Linked DNA regions of Homo sapiens. The protein of the gene in region 1 interacts with the protein of each later gene in a biochemical or structural test. Each region holds a gene or a part of one and is shown on either strand. Other genes may lie near its edges.

Evidence for each region.
Region 2: the proteins of LRG1 (region 1) and ENG interact in a biophysical measurement, tested with the Homo sapiens proteins (one study listed by IntAct).

Annotation. Positions count from the first base shown.
Region 1 is NC_000019.10:4,535,590-4,545,891, forward strand, and holds LRG1 (leucine-rich alpha-2-glycoprotein precursor), read right to left. Parts: upstream 4,448-10,302; 5' UTR 4,425-4,447; coding exon 4,393-4,424; intron 3,363-4,392; coding exon 2,351-3,362; 3' UTR 813-2,350; downstream 1-812. Other genes in the region: SEMA6B (semaphorin-6B precursor), read right to left, coding at 8,012-8,940.
Region 2 is NC_000009.12:127,816,659-127,823,658, forward strand, and holds part of ENG (endoglin isoform 1 precursor), read right to left. Parts: intron 5,863-7,000; exon of another isoform or gene 5,680-5,862; intron 4,841-5,679; exon of another isoform or gene 4,537-4,840; intron 3,380-4,536; coding exon 3,242-3,379; intron 3,003-3,241; coding exon 2,964-3,002; intron 2,175-2,963; coding exon 2,058-2,174; intron 2,054-2,057; exon of another isoform or gene 1,942-2,053; intron 1,732-1,941; exon of another isoform or gene 1,720-1,731; coding exon 1,462-1,719; intron 1,200-1,461; exon of another isoform or gene 1,101-1,199; intron 686-1,100; exon of another isoform or gene 546-685; coding exon 491-545; exon of another isoform or gene 1-490. UniProt on the Homo sapiens protein: Vascular endothelium glycoprotein that plays an important role in the regulation of angiogenesis. Required for normal structure and integrity of adult vasculature. Regulates the migration of vascular endothelial cells.

The DNA.
Region 1 (10,302 bases):
TGCTCGGTTGCCCAGGGCTAGAGTGCAGTGGTGTGATCATAGCTCACTGCAGCCTTGCCCTCCCAGGCTGAGGTGATCCTCCCGCCTCAGTCTCCTAAGTAGCTGGGACCACAGGCACACACCACCACCCCCAGCTAACTTTTTAAACTTTTTGTAGAGACGAGATGTCCCTGTGTTGACCAGGCTTGTCTTCAACCCCTGAGCCCCAAGTGATCCTTCCACCTCAGCCTTCCAAATTGCTGGGATTACAGGTGTGAGCCATTGCACCCAGCCTCTTTTTATTTCTTAATCTGCCCCTTAACTAAGCCAGAAGCCAGGCCTTCCCTTTCCCTAGGATCCCCATTTCACAGATGAGCAAGCTGAGGCTCAGAGATCATAAAACACTTGCCCCGCATACCACAGCAAGTGAGGGATCCTATTCCTTTTTTTTCTTTTTTTTTTTTTGAGACAGAGTCTGACTCTGTCGCCCAGGCTGGAGTGCAGTGGCGCGATCTTGACACACTGCAACCTCCGCCCCCTGGGTTCAAGTGATTCTCCTGCCTCGGCCTCCGGAGTAGCTGGGATTACAGGCGCCTGCCACCACACCTAGCTAATTTTTGTATTTTTAGTAGAGACGGGGTGTCACCATATTCGTCAGGCTGGTCTTGGACTCCTGACCTCGTGATTTGCCTGCCTTGGCCTCCCAAAGTACTAGGATTACAGGCATGAGCCACCGTGCCCGGCCAGGGATCCTATTCAAACCCAGCCCTGCTGGACCTCAGAACCCTGCCTTTTCATTGCCTTGCCTGGAATGACCACAGATGTAGGCATGGTCTTTTTATTTTTATTTTTATTTTTGAGACACAGTTTCACTCTGTCGCCCAGCCTGGAGTGCAGTGGCGTGATCTTGGCTCACTGCAACCTCCGCCTCCCAGGTTCAAGTGATTCTCCTGCCTGACCCTCCCAAGTAGCTGGTATTACAGGCACGTGCCACTGTGCCTGGCTAATTTTTGTATTTTTAGTAGAGACAGGGTTTTGCCATGTTGGCCAGTCTGGTCTCGAACTCCTGACCTCCGGTGATCTGCCTGCCTCAGCCTCCCAAAGTGTTTGGATTACAGGCATGAGCCACGGCGCCAGGCTGCATGGTCATTTTTTAGGGAGCTGGGAAAACTGGACATGCCCCCAAGCCCCAGGGTCTTCCAAATCCGATTGCAGCCCCCACATGGCCAATGCTGTATCAGCAGGTGGGCCCGGGACCCTGCTCATCCCTTCAGCCCCATCCTGCCCCTGCAACCTTGCCCGGGGGCAGGTGCCCCCTTCGATGATCTCAGGTCAGCATGACAAATCGTTTGGAGACCTGGGCAATCTGGTTTAACTTAAACCTTCTCCTAGGACACAAGCCCTGGCAGAAATCCACTGGTAAAATGACACCCGGGCAACAGTCAAGGTTTTATTTCCAGTTAGGTCCCAGGATGGGGGAAGGGAGAGGAGAAGTCACAGGCCATTGATCCCAACTGTCATCCCCTAGGGAGACCATATCCCACACCCCAGGGCCTGGGCCATGCCTCTTTTCCTCCTTCACCCTGGAGTCCTGGGAAGTTGATTTGAGAAGATGCTAGGAACACAATGAAAGCCAATTCATCCGATCCAGTTTTCAAGGGTTATTTATTAAACCCCTTGGTTCTGACCCCAAGCTAAGTGGGACTCAGCATCAGACCCTGCACTCAGAGAGCCCCCTGACTTGGGGAAGACAGAGTCAGAGAAAGGCAGCCCCAGTGTGGCCAGGGCTCAGCTGGAAGGAAGGACAAGGGGCTGGGAGAACCCAGAGTTCAAGAGATCTGGGAAACAGGGAACGGCATTCCAGACGGAGGGCACACCTTGGGCATGGGTAAGGAAAGCCCATCGTGTGTTCTAGGAAGCATGGATGGATGAAACGGGGTCCCAGCCGCTATGGACAGCCCCGAGTTTCACCTGTAAAAGGCAGGATTATTTGTTTTTAATTTTAATTTTAATTTTTTTGAGACAGTCTTGCTCTGTCGCCCAGGCTAGAGTGCAGTGGCACGATCTTGGCTCACCGCAAGCTCCGCCTCCCAAGTTCACGCCATTCTCCTGCCTCAGCCTCCCGAGTTGCTGGGACTACAGGTGCCCACCACCACGCCTGGCTAATTTTTTATATTTTTAGTAGAGACAGGGTTTCACCATGTTAGCCAAGATGGTCTCGATCTCCTGACCTCGTGATCCGCCCACCTGGGCCTCCCAAAGTGCTGGGATTACAGGCGTGAGCCCCCGCACCCGGCCAAAGGCAGGATTATTTGTTAAGCGGGTTGCAGTGTTCTACCAGACCCCCCACCCTCAACCCAAGCCCCTGGTCTCACTGGGACTTGGCCACTGCCAGGAGCGTCTGGCCCTTCACGGCTTCAGGCCCAGCACAGCGCGTGTCATTCTGGGAAAACATCTTGTCTTTTTGGGCCTGAAGCCAACGATAGAGGTCGCTCAGGTTCTGGTCACAGATCCAGGGGTTGCCGGAGATGTCGAAGCCATCCCGCATGTCCCAGTTTGGCTGCCCTAGGGATGCCCAGAGCCCCTCGGGCACGCTGGCCAGTGAGTTATTGGAGAGGTCCAGCATGTCCAGCTGCCGCAGGCCCTGGAAGGCACCGGCTGCCACCCTGGCCAGCTTGTTGCCGTTCAGGAAGAGGTAGCGCAGGTCCGGCTGCGGCAAGAGGAGATCTTTTCCCAGTACTTGCAATTTGTTGCCTTCTAGATGTAGCCGTTCTAATTGCAGCGGACCCCTCAGGAGGTCAGGTGGCAAGGTCTCCAACTGGTTCTCCCCAAGGTCAAGGGTGCGCAGGAGGGTGAAGTTGGCCAGCAGCCCGGGGGGCAGTTTCCGGAGGCGGTTCCCAGACAGGTCCAGATGCCCCAGAGCTTTCAGGCCGTGTAGCCACGAGACCTCCAGGACCTCCAGCTGGTTTTCTTTCAATACCAGGGTGTCCAGGGTGGCTGAGGCCTGGAAGAGGCCCGGGGGCAGCCCGGTCAGGGCGTTTCGGGTTAGATCCAGCACCCTCAGCTGCGGCACTGGCCGCAGGAATTCGGGCGAGAGGCTTTCCAGCCCATTGCTGGAGAGGTGCAATTCTTGGAGCTTAGAGGCGCCCTGGAGGAGGTTGGCTGGCAGGTGGGTCAGGTTGAAGAATTCCACGGCCAGGTGCACGGTGTCGGCTGGCAGGTAGCCGGGGATTTCGGCAGGTGGTTGACAGGAGATGGAGCTGCCATGGTCTGAGCGGAACACCTGGCAGTCTTTGGGGCTCAGGGTGACCCCCCAGGCTGAGGCTGCCAACAGCAGCAGCAGGAACAGAGTTCTAGAAACATGGGGTTGAATGCCCCCTGGGCTGCAGGCAGTAACAGAAGATGCTTACTAAACCACAGTGAAAATACACTCAGCTAGGTGAAAATACACCAGCAAATCCGCCCACTTCTTCCCATCTCTGCGGCTACCAGCCTGGACTATGCTACCTCATCTCTCACCTGTACTAGGGCAGTTGCTTCCTCCTCCTCTTCCAGCTTCTACCCTCACCCCCGACAGCTGCCAGAAGTGGCCCCTGTTCCAGGGAGAATTATAATTCTAGGAAAGTTGAGTTTCTGAGTGTAACTCCCGCATAATATGAATACACTTCCCCATCACCAGCCTAGCCCCCATGAGCTGTTAATTATTCACAGTCCAACTTGCTAGTTTCTTCTGATCTGGCTTATTTTCTGGGTCAGTCCTTGTCTCCCTGGCTCTGTGTTTTGATGTGAACTCCTATTCATCCTTCAAAGCCCCAGCTCCAATGCCCTCTTTTCCATGAAGACTTCTCTGCTCTGGGATCCTGGTCTTTTTGTCCACTCTTGACCAATTGGGTGCTTGGAGGAAGACAGACGTTCAGGTTCATGTTTTTGAGACAGAGTCTTGCTCAGTTGCCCAGGCTGGAGGGAACTGGCATGATCACAGCTCACTGCAGCCTCTGAACATGAAAAGTGTGTCCTGCTTTGGCCAGGTCTGAGGGTGGGCATTTGGCCTTGGGAAGCGGTGGTTTACACTTAGCACCACAACCCTTGGAAGCCTGGGGCTTCCCCTCCTCCTCCAGGGCTTCCCTGGCCCGGCAGCCATCAGACATGATCTCGACAGCCTTGGTCACTGTGGCCCCAGGCCTCTAACAAGAAGCCTCCCCCGGCTCCCTGCTGCCCATGCCCACCTGGGCTTCTGTAGGGGTGTGTGTGTGTGTGCACGCGCCAGTCTTTCTGTCACAGATAAGGTTGATCTGTGCCAGCCACCAGGCCTGTATCTGCTCCCTGTGACTTCTATGGGTTAGCTGGAATGTCCTGTATCTCCGCATGGTCTGGCGTTCAAACCTGCCTAGGACAGGTAGTGTGGGGACCTACCTTTTTGGTCGCTGTCTGCTCCAAGAGGACATGGTAGCTCTGCTCTTTTGCTTCTGGGTTGTCCTGGCCTGCGGAGGTGGCCTTATACCTGCCTGGACTGGGGGCAGGGGAACCAACCCTGGGGAAGTCCCCACCCCCGTCCAGTTCCTGATAGGGGCTGAGCCTAAGCCAGGCAGGGGAAGGGGAGGGGTCAGGATTACAAAATTGCTTCCTGGAAATTGTTTCCTGTTCAACCCCTTTTTGACCCTGCTTCTAGAACACAGGTTTTTCTTTCCTTGCTTCCTGATTTTTGGGGGGCATCCAAGAGTCTCTCTAGTTGCATCCTCACTTCCCCCAACCCGGAGTTCAAGGGTCAAGGTTTGCAAGGCACTATTCCTGGAGACAGGGACAGCTCTCTGAGCAAGAGGAGGGATTTACCATAAACTTGAGCAACCCAGAAGCTCACTGAAAAGAACAAAAAAACTCGTCTTGATTTCATGGTATGTTGATATTGCTTTTTTTAAAAGAAGTCATTTTAAAAATACAGTCCAATAGTGAGTAATGCCAAACGTCTCTACGGTCCTTAGACAGTGGCTTGGGAGGAACCAAACCTGGTTCTGAATTCCAGCTCTGTCATGAACACCTTTGCTTTGTGACCTTTGGCAAGTGACTTAACTTTTCTTGGCCTCAGTTTCCCCATCTATGAAGCTGAACTCAAATCTCCAAGGGCTCCTTCTGCCCTTTTTTCTCTTCATCTGAATCTGACATCCATGCTATTGTTTCCATTCTTCCTCATTTCCTATTAAATGCGTTTGGAGGCTACAAATTTCCCTTTGAGAACAGCTTTGGCTGCATCTCATGGACTTGGCTGCAGAGTGCTTGCATTCTTGTTGAGTTCTAAATATTTAGGTATGATGGTGTCACCTTTATCTGCAGCTATGACTATTTTTTTTTTCTTTTTTTTTTTGAGACAGAGTCTTGCACTGTTGCCTAGGCTGGAGTGCAGTGGCGTGATCTCCACTCACTGCAAGCTCCGCCTCCCGGGTTCACGCCATTCTCCCACCTCAGCCTCCCGAGTAGCTGGGACTACAGGCATGCACCAGCGTGCCTGGTTAATTTTTATATTTTTAATAGAGACAGGATTTTGCCATGTGGCCCAGGCTGGTCTTGAACTCCTGAGCTCATGTGATCCACTGGCCTCGGCCTCCTAAACTGCTAAAATTACAGGTGTGAGCCACCATGCCCCGTCATTTTTTTTTTTTTTTGAGACAGCATTTTGCTCTGTTACCCAGCTTGGAGCAGTGTGGTGCAATCATAGCTAACTGTAGCTTTGACCATGGGTCCAAGGCCTCCCAAGTAGCTGGGACTACGGGCACGTGCCACCATGCCTGGCTAATTTTTTTTGAGATGGAGTCTCCCTCTGCCACCCATGCTGGAGTGCAGTGATGCAATTTCGGCTCACTGCAAGCTCCACCTCCTGGGTTCAAACGATTCTCCTGCCTCAGCCTCCCGAGTAGCTGGGAATACAGGCACATGCTACCATGCCTGGCTAATTTAAAAAATTCTTTTGTATGTTACCTAGGCTGGTCTCAAACTCCTGGGCTCAAGGAATCTTCTCAGTCTCTCAAAGTGCTGGGGTTATAGACGTGAGCCACTGCACTCCGTCAGTCTTGTGCCCTGCCCAGTCTCCGGAGCCCAGCCGTTAGTTGGTCTTAATCAACATGGACTGAGAGGAAGGAAGGCTTGTGAAATGTAGTGACACAGTAACAAAACGATCCATTAAAATGAAATGAGATCACATCCCTGCTTAAAACTCTCTGATGGCTTCTTGTCCCACTTAAAACAAAATTCATAAGGCTGGCCAGGCGCAGTGGCTCACGCCTGTAATCCCAGCATTTTGGGAGGCCGAGGCAAGCGGATCACCTGAGTTCAGGAGTTCGAGACCAGCCTGACCAATATGATGAAACCCCGTCTGTACTAAAAATACAAAAATTAGCGGGGCGTGGTGGCGGGTGCCTGTAGTCCCAGCTACTGGAGAGGCTGAGACAGGAGAATTGCTTGCACCCAGGAGGCATAGGTTGCAGTGAGCCGAGATCGCGCCACTATACTCCAGCCTGGGTGACAAAGTGAGACTCTGTCTCAAAAAAAGAAAAAGAAAAAGAAAAAGAAACTGGCTCCTATGCAGATGAAGATGGGGACCCCGAAGTCTCCATGTTTCCACACTCAGCTCCCCAGATTTGTTTTGACCCAGCCTTTTTTTTTTTTTTTTTTTTGAGACAGCGTCTCGCTCTGTCACCCAGGCTGTAGTGCAGTGGTGTGATCTCAGCTCACTGCAACCTCTGACTCTCAGATTCAAGCTATTCTTCTGCCTCAGTCGGCCGAGTAGCTGGAATTACAGGAACCCGCCACCAAGCCTGGCTGATTTTTTGTATTTTTAGTAGAGACGGGGTTTTGCCATGTTGGCCAGGCTAGTCTCGAACTCTTGACCTCAAGTGATCTGCACACCTCGGCCTCCCAAAGTGCCGGGATTACAGGCGTGAGCCACCGCGCCCGGCCTGGCCTTGACTTTTGAGGGTGCCCCCACCCGTGCCACCCCCAGGAGGCAGAGCAGAGCCAGAGTCATGGGGGCCGGTGGTTGTAAACAGAGTTTTATTGATGGGGAGGGGGCTGGGGGAGGCAAACTCCAGAGAGGGCAGAGGACCCAGCCAGCCACGTGGCATGCATGGTCAGCTGGAGGTCAGAGGGGGGAGGTCACAAGGGGACGGGTGGCATGGGACTCTCTCACCACCCTGGGGCCGTATTTACAGAGGGGCCCCACCCACCTTCGCCGCCCCCCAGGCCCCCAAGCCCTTTAGACAGCTGCTGCCGATGTGACTTCCGGGCAGGCCCTCCTCGTGTCTCCTGCCTGAAACCCCGGCATTGTCCCCGCTTCCCTCTGCAGAGTGGGGGGGGTTCAAACTCCTAACCGGCACCTCGGAGACCCCCGGGCCTTCTGGAAGCCCCAGCGTCGGCTCAGCCAACGCCCAGGCCGCTGGGGCCACCACGATCGTCGCTCGTGGACACACACCCTGCACGCGTGGCCCACTTGACACACACGCCCACAGCAGCCTTCGCTGGCACGCACACACACGCCCACCTCCCCGGCCCCTTGCACACGAACACGGCACGCACACGCACGCACACCCACACACGCCAGGGGCCTGGGTTGGGGAGGGACCTTTCCAGGGGTGGGGGAGGGCTTAGGTCTGCAGCTGTGGCCCCCCATTCCCCACCGGCGTCCAAGCCTCCCCTGCCTGCCGCCACCCCGAGAACGGAGTTGTGCAATTGGTTAGAAAACCGCAAAAGAAACCAAAACTGCAAAAAAAACCAAAACCTACGCGCATAAGGTCAACCTCAAATCCATAGCAAAGTCCTCCCGCCCACCCACCCCCAAACCGTCTCAGCGTCCTGCGGCCCCGGGTAGGGGGAGGGCGAGCTGGTTGTGCTTCCTTGTGGCGGAGGGGGCCCCCCACTCCGCGGGTGGGTCGCGGGGGGGACTTGAGCACCCACTCGGAGTTGCCCCGGGCCCCGGCGTTCTGGCACCGTCTCTCGCTCCTGGTTCCCGTGGCTGGCACTGCCAAGGCATCGGGGGGCCCCCGGCCTAGGGCACGGGGGGCGCAGTCCTGTCCGCCCCCCCATAGGGGAGGAGGTGGGCCAAGTCTGTGCCCGGCCGGGCGTGGCAGCCGCGGTGGCGGTCCCCAGGCCGGGCCTCGCCGCTGTTGAACGTGTGGGTGCGGCGCAGGGTGGCGGCCGGAGGGGCGTGGGGGCCCAGTGGCCTCCTCAGGCTGCCCGTCGGGGGCGGGCTCCAGGGCCGCGGGAGGCCATCGGCGGCTGAGGCTGGGTCCAAGGGGCCCGTGGGCGCGGACACCACCCGCCGGCGGTCCGGGCTGGCGTGGGGGGTGAGCGGGAAGTCGCCGTGGGAGGCGCGGCCGGGCCGGGCAGCATAGAGGCGGCCGTCGGGGGTCGGCTCCCCAGGCGCGGGGGGCTGCTCGGGGGCCCGGGCGGGCGCCAGCAGCAGGAGGGAGGATGAAGCGGAGGCCGGGAGCAGGGGGTGGCCGTGGTCCCAGGCGCGGGGGCCCAGGGCGTGGGGGTGCGGGTGCGGAGTGGGCAGGCGCTTCTGCGGCAGCGGCGTCTGCTCGGGCGTGGGCAGCAGCCCCGAGTCCAGGTCGTGGGGCCCGCCCTGCAGCAGCGTGGCCTTGGCCCAGCCGTTCTGCATCAGGGGCGCCAGCAGGGCCTCCGGGGGAACCCCGGCGCCACCGCCACCGCCTCCGCCCCGGCCCCCGGGACCCTGCGCCCTGCGCTCGCCCAGGCGGCTGACGCTCAGCACCGCCTCGCCCGCCCCGTGCGCCAGGATGGCCTCCTTGTCCTTGCGCCGGGCCAGCTCCCGCCGCTCACGGAGGCCCACGAACCAGCCCACGCTGAAGCCGGACACCACGGCTCCCACCACGAAGGCCGCCACCGACGACGTTACCAGCAGGTTCACCGACACCAGCCCCGCGCGGTCCTCGGAGAGGCTGGCCCGCAGGAGTCCTGGCCGGGGAGCACAGGGGGGTTAGTGGGGCCGGCGGGGTGGCCCTGGGCATCCCTCCTACCTCCTCGGGGCCCTCTGTCCTCTTTTTTATTATTTTTATTTTTTTTTATTTATTTATTTTTTGAGAAGGAGTCTTCCTTTGTGTGCCAGGCTGGAGTGCAGTGGGGCGATCTCGATTCACTGCAACCTCCGCCTCCCATGTTCAAGTGATTCTCCTGCCTCAGCCTCCCGAGTAGCTGGGACCACAGGTGCCCACCACCACGCCCGGCTAATTTTTGTATTTTTAGTAGGATGGGGTTTCACCACGTTGGCCAGGCTGGTCTGAACTCCTGACCTTGTGATCCGCCCACCTCTGCCTCCCAAAGTGCTGGGATTACAGGCATAAGCCACCACGACTGGCCTTATTTTTATTATTTTTTAATTTTTTTTGTTTGTTTGTTTTGAGACAGTCCCCCAGGCTAGAGTGCAGTGGTAAAGCTCACTGCAACCCTGCCTCCAGCTACCTGTTTGTTTTATTAAAGACAGGATCTGGGCCAGGCATGATGGCTCACACCCATAATCCTAGCATTTTGTGAGGCTGAGGCAGGAGATCACCTGAGGTCAGAAGTTTGAGACCAGCCTGGCCAACAAGTGAAACCCATCTCTACTAAAAATACAAATTTTAGCCGGACATGGTGGTGTGCGCCTGTAATCTCAGCTACTTGGGAGGCTGAGGCAGGAGAATCAATTGAACCCGGGAGGTGGAGGTTGCAGTGAGCTGAGATCACACTACTGCACTCCAGCCTGGGTGACAGAGCAAGACTCTGTCTCAAAAAAAAAAAAAAAAGACATGTTCTCACTCTGTTGCCCAAGCTGGAGTACAGTGGCCTGATCACAGCTCATTGCAGCCTCCACCTCCCTGGGCTCAAGCGATCCTCCCGCCTCAGCCTCCCAAGTAGCTGGAACTACAGGCATGCACTGCCACGTCTGGATTATTTTTGGGTTTTTGTTTTAGAGACAGGGTTTCACTATATTCCCCAGGCTGGTCTCAAACTCCTGACCTCAAGTGATCGTCCTGTCTTGGCCTCTCAAAATGCTGGGATTATAGGCAGGAGCTGCCGCGCCTGGCCCCTTCTGTCCTGTTGAAGTTGGTCTGTCTGCCTTCTGTTGTCTCTTCGTCCTTGCCAAAGCCTGCCTGTTTCTTGGTGTCTCTGTTCTTCCCCTATCTCCCTCCCCAATAAATGAGATGAGACCACCCCATGCCTTTCTTTTCTTTTTTTGAGACGGAGTCTTGCTCTGTCGTCCAGGCTGGAGTGCAGTGGCGTGATCTTGGCTCACTGCAGGCTCTGCCTCCCGGATTCACGCCATTCTCCTGCCTCAGC
Region 2 (7,000 bases), on another chromosome or scaffold:
TAGGTGCCCCCATCCCTCACCCCTGCCTCTGCCACCAGTGTCGGGACTCTTCTGCCTGGTGTGGGCCTGGGCCTGGGGGGAACTGATGGAGAGGCTAGAGGGGGCGTCCTGCAGGGAGAGGCCTCAAGGAAGGCAAGGCCAGCACCCACCCTCAAAGGGCCTCTGTCTCACCCAGGAGACTCCATCCTCCCAGCAAGGTCAGCCAATAACTGTGGGGATGGAGTGGAGCCGTGAGTGGGGGCAGAGGCCTAGACTCCCACCCCACAGGGCGGTCCCGGGCAAGGGCTCTCCATCTGCAAAGTGCAGCTCTGGCCCCTGCTCTAGGCTGCTATGGCTCTGGGAAGCCCTCCTCCTGCCCCTTCTGGGCCGCTTTCTCTGGGGTCCCCCTTGCCATGTGCTATGTGCCCAGGCCGTTTCTCAGGGCTGCCCGCTGTGCCCTACTGTGACCTCAGCCACTAGAACAAACCCGAGAGACCTGGAGGGAGCTCACCAGACAGGTCAGGGCTGATGATGTTCAAGCGCATGAAGACAGTCCTATGGACTTCCTGGAGGAGAAAGAGAGAGCAGTATGTGGCACCTTTGGGAGGCGGCTTCCAGGTTTACTCCCTGGCTCCGTGACCCCAGCCCACCCTAGAGCCTTGGCTTTGAATCCCATCTCCACCGCTTCGTAGCTGGATGCCTCTGGGTGAGTCCTGGAAGATCTGTGCTGTGGGAGGGTGCCTAGTGGACGATCCCTGGCTGCTGCTGAAATGTTTCCTGTGAGTTCCTGGAGGCCTTGATGCCCAGGAGCACTGTGGAAGCACTATGCATCCCTCACCCTTGTGAACACTTTGGAGCTATGAGCCAGGTCAGCCCAGAGTCCCAGGCTCACTCTGGCTGGAGGGAGAGGCCCACTTAGGGGAGTTGAAGGCTTCCCTAGCTTCCTATGACCAGAGAAGTTTGTAATCCTGGAGGCCTGTCTGTGCAAGGGCCTGGGGGTGACTCTGGGGGCGTCCAGGATAGATTGCCTGAGAGTGGGGGTCACCAGATGGTGAAGTGTTGTGACTGGCAAATACAGAAAGCCAGGAGTGTGTGTCCTTTGTCCGCCTCTCTTCCCTCAGGTCTCCTGTTCTTTGAGATTACACTGGTGACCATACTACATGGATGTGCGGGTGGTTAGATTCCTGGGTGGGAGGGTGGATGGATGGATGGACGGACGGGTAAGTGAAAGGATGGATGGATGGATAGATGGACAGTGGCAGCTGCATAGTCTGCCAGTGCCCCAGACACAGCAGTCCCACCAGAAAGCTCTCGGGTGGCAGAAAGTGCTGCTGGCAGCCAGACTGCCAGGCCACATGCCTGATTAAGGCTCCGCCCCTCACCAGCTGGCCCCACATCCCTGTGGGCTGCCATGTCCCTTCCTGCAAACCACAGACCTGGAAGCTCCCACTTGAAGCTGGGGCCGGCCCAGGCCCCACTCACCTGGTCTTGAGACCCGGTCTTGGGACGCAGGGCTACCGTGCAGCTGAGGGTGCCGGTTTTGGGTATGGGTACTGTGTAGAAGTGGAGGAGGAAGCTGAAGCGCGGGTCACCCTCGGGGCTTGGGGACAGCAGGCTCACACAGTTGCCCTTGGCCGCCCGGCCCTGGATGAGTTCCACGGTGCCTCCCTCAGGCCCCAAGTCCAGGTGGCAGCTGTCTAACTGGAGCAGGAACTCGGAGACGGATGGGGACACTCTGACCTGCATGGGTAGGTAGGGCCACGCGGCATGGGCAGCTGCTCTTCACCCCACCCCACCTGCTGCCTTCAAATATCGGCTAGAATTAAGAGTTCCCACCCCTGAGTCCTCACAGTGGAAAGAAAGACATGGACCTGTCTGGGGCAGAGGAGGAGGACAGGGCCACATCCTTGTCAGTGTCCCTGAGCAATGCCTTCTCTGTCTCTCCCTCTCCCGTGCACCCAGGCTGTCTCCCTCCTGACTCTGGGAGTCTCATCTCCTCTGGAGTCATGGTGGGAAGAAAGGCGGAGAGGAAGTTCCAGGAGCTGGGAGGCCCGAGGGGTGACAGGCATGCCAGGTACCTGCACAAAGCTCTGCTGCCCCGGCTCGATGGTGTTGGAGGCCTGGAGGAAGTGTGGGCTGAGGTAGAGGCCCAGCTGGAAAGAGAGGCTGTCCATGTTGAGGCAGTGCACCTTTTTCTGGGGGAGGACGGGAGGGAGACTTGGTCAATCTGGCGGCGCCAGCCAGGAGGGCGAGGGGTGTGGGGAGGAACAGGCATCATGGCCCTGTGGAGTTGCCTGACTCTCTTTTTTTTTTTTTTTGAGACGGAGTCTCGCTCTGTCGCCCAGGCTGGAGTGCAGTGGTGCGATCTCAGCTCACTGCAAGCTCCGCCTCCCGGGTTCATGCCATTCTCCTACCTCAGCCTCCCAAGTAGCTGGGATTACAGGTGCCCGCCACCACGCCCGGCTAATTTTTTGTATTTTTAGTAGATACGGGGTTTCACCATGTTAGCCAGGATGGTCTCAATCTCTTCACCTCGTGATCTGCCCGCCTCGGCCTCCCAAAGTGCTGCGATTACAGGCGTGAGCCACTGCGCCCGGCCCTTTTTTTTTTTTTTAAACTAATATTTATCAAGGAGGCACCAGCTGCCAGGCTGTGTGAAGAGCTTCCACACAGCACCTCATTGGCTGCCCAGAAGCACCCTGTGGCGCAGAGTCCTTTCTTAGGCCACCTTTGGGCCCAGAAAACTAAAGTGACTTGCCCAAGGCCACACAGCCAGTATGTGCTAAGCCCTCTGACTTGAGAGACCAAGAGCGTCACCCTCAGCAGTCCTGCTCCGGTCATACAGAAGGGGAGACCGAGGCATTCCAGACACACATGGCTTGCCAGGAGTTTCCCGAGGCCTGCTCCCTCCCAGGCCAGGAAGAGGCCCCGGCCCAGCAGCAGCCCCTGGGCCAGGTGGGTTAGCACGTGACTGTCCATCTCACCCGCTGTGGTGATGAGCTCGACAGGATATTGACCACCGCCTGCGGGGATAAAGCCAGGGAGCTGGTCAGAGCCAGAAAGGACCCCAGAGGGTATCCCACCCAATACGCCCATTTTTGCAGATGGGGAGACTAAGCCAACCAATGGCCAAGCTTGTCTTGTGTTCTGAGCCCCTGCAGCCTGCTCTCCCAAACACACCTCCACCCTGGGGGATCAGGGAGGGCACCTGAGGGGGCACCAACCAGGCTGGTCCTGATACCTTTTTGGCCCCAGCTCTTACCTCATTGCTGATCATACTTGCTGACACCTGCATGCCACAGCTGGAGTAAGCACTGCGCAAGACAAACTTGTCACCCCTGTCCTCTGCCTCACAGCTGGGGTCCCAGAAGGTCAGGCCCGTGATGGTGCACTTCAAATGCTGGGTCGGAAGAGAGGGGCACCATCAGGAGGCACTGGGGTCTCTGTGGCCTGCCACACCCCAGCACCAAGGACTGACCACAACCCAGGGGTCCCAAGTCACAGCCATTCCCCTGCCCTGCTCCCTCTTCATTTTTGTTAGATGTCATCATCCTACACCACTTAAAAGTTCTTTTTTTTGAGATGGAGTCTCACTCTTTTTGCCCAGGTGCAGTGGCTCGATCTTGGCTCACTACAACCTCCACCTCCTGGGTTCAAGCGATTCTCCTGCCTTGGCCTCCTGAGTTGCTGGGATTACAGGCACGTGCCACCATGCCCGGCTACTTTTTTGTATTTTTAGTAGAGATAGGGTTTCACCATGTTGGCCAGGCTGGTCTCAAACTCCTGACCTCAGGTGATCCACCTGCCTCGGCCTCCCATTGCAGGGATTACAGGCGTGAGCCACCGCGCCTGGCCAAATTTTCTTATATCTATCAAAATAAATACAGAACTATTAAAAATATTCCTTCAGGCCGGGTACGGTGGCTCACGCCTGTAATCCCAGCACTTTGGGAGGCTGAGGCAGGTGGATCATGAGGTCAGGAGATCGAGACCATCCTGGCTAACATGATGAAACCCCGTCTCTACTAAAAATACAAAAAAATTAGCCGGGCGTGGTGGCGGGCTCCCGTAGTCCCAGCTACTCGGGAGGCTGAGGCAGGAAAATGGCGTGAGCCCGGGAGGCGGAGTTTGCAGTGAGCCGAGATCGCACCATTGCACTCCAGCCTGGGCAACAGAGCGAGACTCCGTCTCAAAAAAAAAAAATATATATATATATATTCCTTCAAGTTCCACATATAATCATCACTCACAGCCCCAAGGGCATGCAAACCCTGCAAGCATAATCCAGTCTCAGGCCTGGCGTGGGCGAAGTGTTCCTATAAAGAGCCAGATAGTAAATACTGTCATGCACCATGGGACAATGTTGTGGTCGGTGATGGACTGTGTATATGATGGTGGTCCCTGGTCCCATAAAATTATAACGAAGCTGAAAAATTTCTATTGCCTAGTGTTTGTGGTGATGCTGGTGTAAGCAAACTTATTGCACTGCCGGTCATATAAAAGTCTAGCACAGGCTGGGCGTGGTGGCTCACGCCTGTAATCCCAGCACTTTGGTAGGCAGAGGCAGGCAGATCACAGGAGGCCAGAAGTTCGAGACCTGCCTAGCCAACATAGTGAAACCCGACTCTACTAAAATTATAAAAATTAGCCAGGTGTGGTGGCAGACACCCATAGTCCCAGCTACTGGGAAGGCTGAGGCACAAGAATCGCTTGAACCTGAGAGGAGGAGGCTGCAGTGAGCCGAGATCACATCATTGCACTCCAGCCTTGGTGACAGAGCGAGACCTCGTCTCTAAAACAAGAAAAAGAAGGCCAGTTGCAGTGGCTCACGCCTGTAATCCCCGCACTTTGGGAGGCTGAGGTAGGCAGATGACCTGAGGTCGGAAGTTCGAGACCAGCCTGGCCAATATGGTGAAACCCTGTCTCTACTAAAAATACAAAAAAGTAGCTAGGCTGCGGACCAGGCGCCTGATTTCACACCTGTAATCCCAGCACTTTGGGAGGCCGAGGTGGGCGGATCACAAGGTCAGGAGTTCGAGACCAGCCTGACCAACATAGTGAAACCCCGTCTCTGCTAAAAAAAAAAATACAAAAAATAAGCCAAGAGTGGTGGTGGGCACCTGTAATCCCAGCTACTCGGGAGGCTGAGGCAGGAGAATTGCTTGAACCCGGGAGGCAGAGGTTTCAGTGAGCCGAGATTGTGCCATTGTACTCCAGCCCGGGCAATAGTGTGAGACTGTCTTAAAAAAAAAAAAAAAAAAAAAAAGCCAGGCGTGGTGGTGCACGCCTGTATTCCCAACTACTCAGGAGGCTGAGGCAGGAGAATCACTTGAACCCGGGAGGTGGAGGTTGCAGTGAGCCGAGATTGTACCACTGAACTCCAGCCTGGGTGACAGAGCAAGACTGTCTCAAAGAAAAAAAAAGAAAAGAAAAGAAAAACCACTGTAGCCAAAATTGAAAGAATTACAGCAAATCAAGGGAAGTGGTGGCCAAAGGGGCAACCTTTTTTTCTTTATTAAAACTTATAAAAATCATCAAGAAAAATACCAAGCCTCAATGATAAGGAGACTGAGGTTCTCATCACTCACGTGGAACCATGCCCACACTCACTACTAACCAGAGAATTACAACTAAAACAAGAATGGAACGCCATGTGCCTCTTCCCACACTGGCAAAGGTTTCTCTTTTTTTGAATTATAGTCTGGAGACAGCGAAGAGGTTGAGGTGTTCTCGTAAATCAGTGGTGAAAATTCAAATCATCTTTGGGAAAGTGGGTTGGCAACATGTATTGAAACTTCATTCATTTTGACCCAGTAATTCCACTAATGTGGAAATCTATCCTGAGAAAATAATCCTATATAAAGAAATGTTTCATGCACAATGACATTTTTTGCATATTTATAATACTACAGAATTGGGAACAACCTAAATGTGTAACAAGGGAAGAGGAGTTAATTATAGCATGTCAATATGATGGAATAATATGTGCTTATTAAACATGATATTAGGTACAGCTGTCAAAGCTCTAAAAATACATTAAGTGAAATAGTAAGAGACAAATGAACACATCTCTTATGATTACATCAATATAAGAAATACACAGAGAAAACGCTCTAGAAAGAAGCACACCAAAATGTTGGCAGCCATTGTCTTTGTGTCAGAAGGTTAAGATTTTCTAATTTTCACATATTTTTTAAAGCATGTTTTTTGTTTGTTTGTTTGAAATGGAGTCTCGCTCTGTCGCCCAGGCTGGAGTGCAGTGGCACAATCTCAGCTCACTGCAATCTCCCTCTACCGGGTTCAAGCGATTCTCCTGCCTCAGCCTCCTGAGTAGCTGGGACTACAGGCGTGCACCACCACGTCCGGCTAATTTTTTCTATTTTAGTAGAGACAGGGTTTCACCGTGTTGCCCAGGCTGGTCTCAAACTCTTGAGCTCCGGCAATCTGCCTGCCTCGGCCTCCAAAGTGCTAGGGTTACAGGTGTGAGCCACTGTGCCTGGCCAGCATGTGTTCTTTCATTTTATTTTGAGACGAGTCTTGCTCTGTTGCCCAGGCTGGAGTGCAGTGGCATGATCTTGGCTCACTGCAAGCTCCGCCTCCCGGGTTCAGGCCATTCTCCTGCCTCAGCCTCCCAAGTAGCTGGGACTACAGGCGCCTACCACCATGCCTGGCTAATATTTTGTATTCACCATGTGTTATTTTTATAACAAATATATTTGTTTGTCAACCAGGCAGTGATCATATTGTATAGGCTTTTTTTTTTTTCTTTGAGATGGAGTCTCTCTCTGTCACCCAAGCTGGAGTACAGTGGTGCGATCTCAGCTCACTGCAAGCTCTGCCTCCCGGGTTCACACCATTCTCCTGCCTCAGCCTCCCGATTAGCTGGGACTACAGGCGCCTGCCACCACACCCGGTTAATTTTTTGTATTTTTAGTAGGGACAGGGTTTCACTGTGTTAGCCAGGATGGTCTCGATCTCCTGACCTTGTGATCCACCCGCCTCGGCCTCCCAAAGTGCTGGG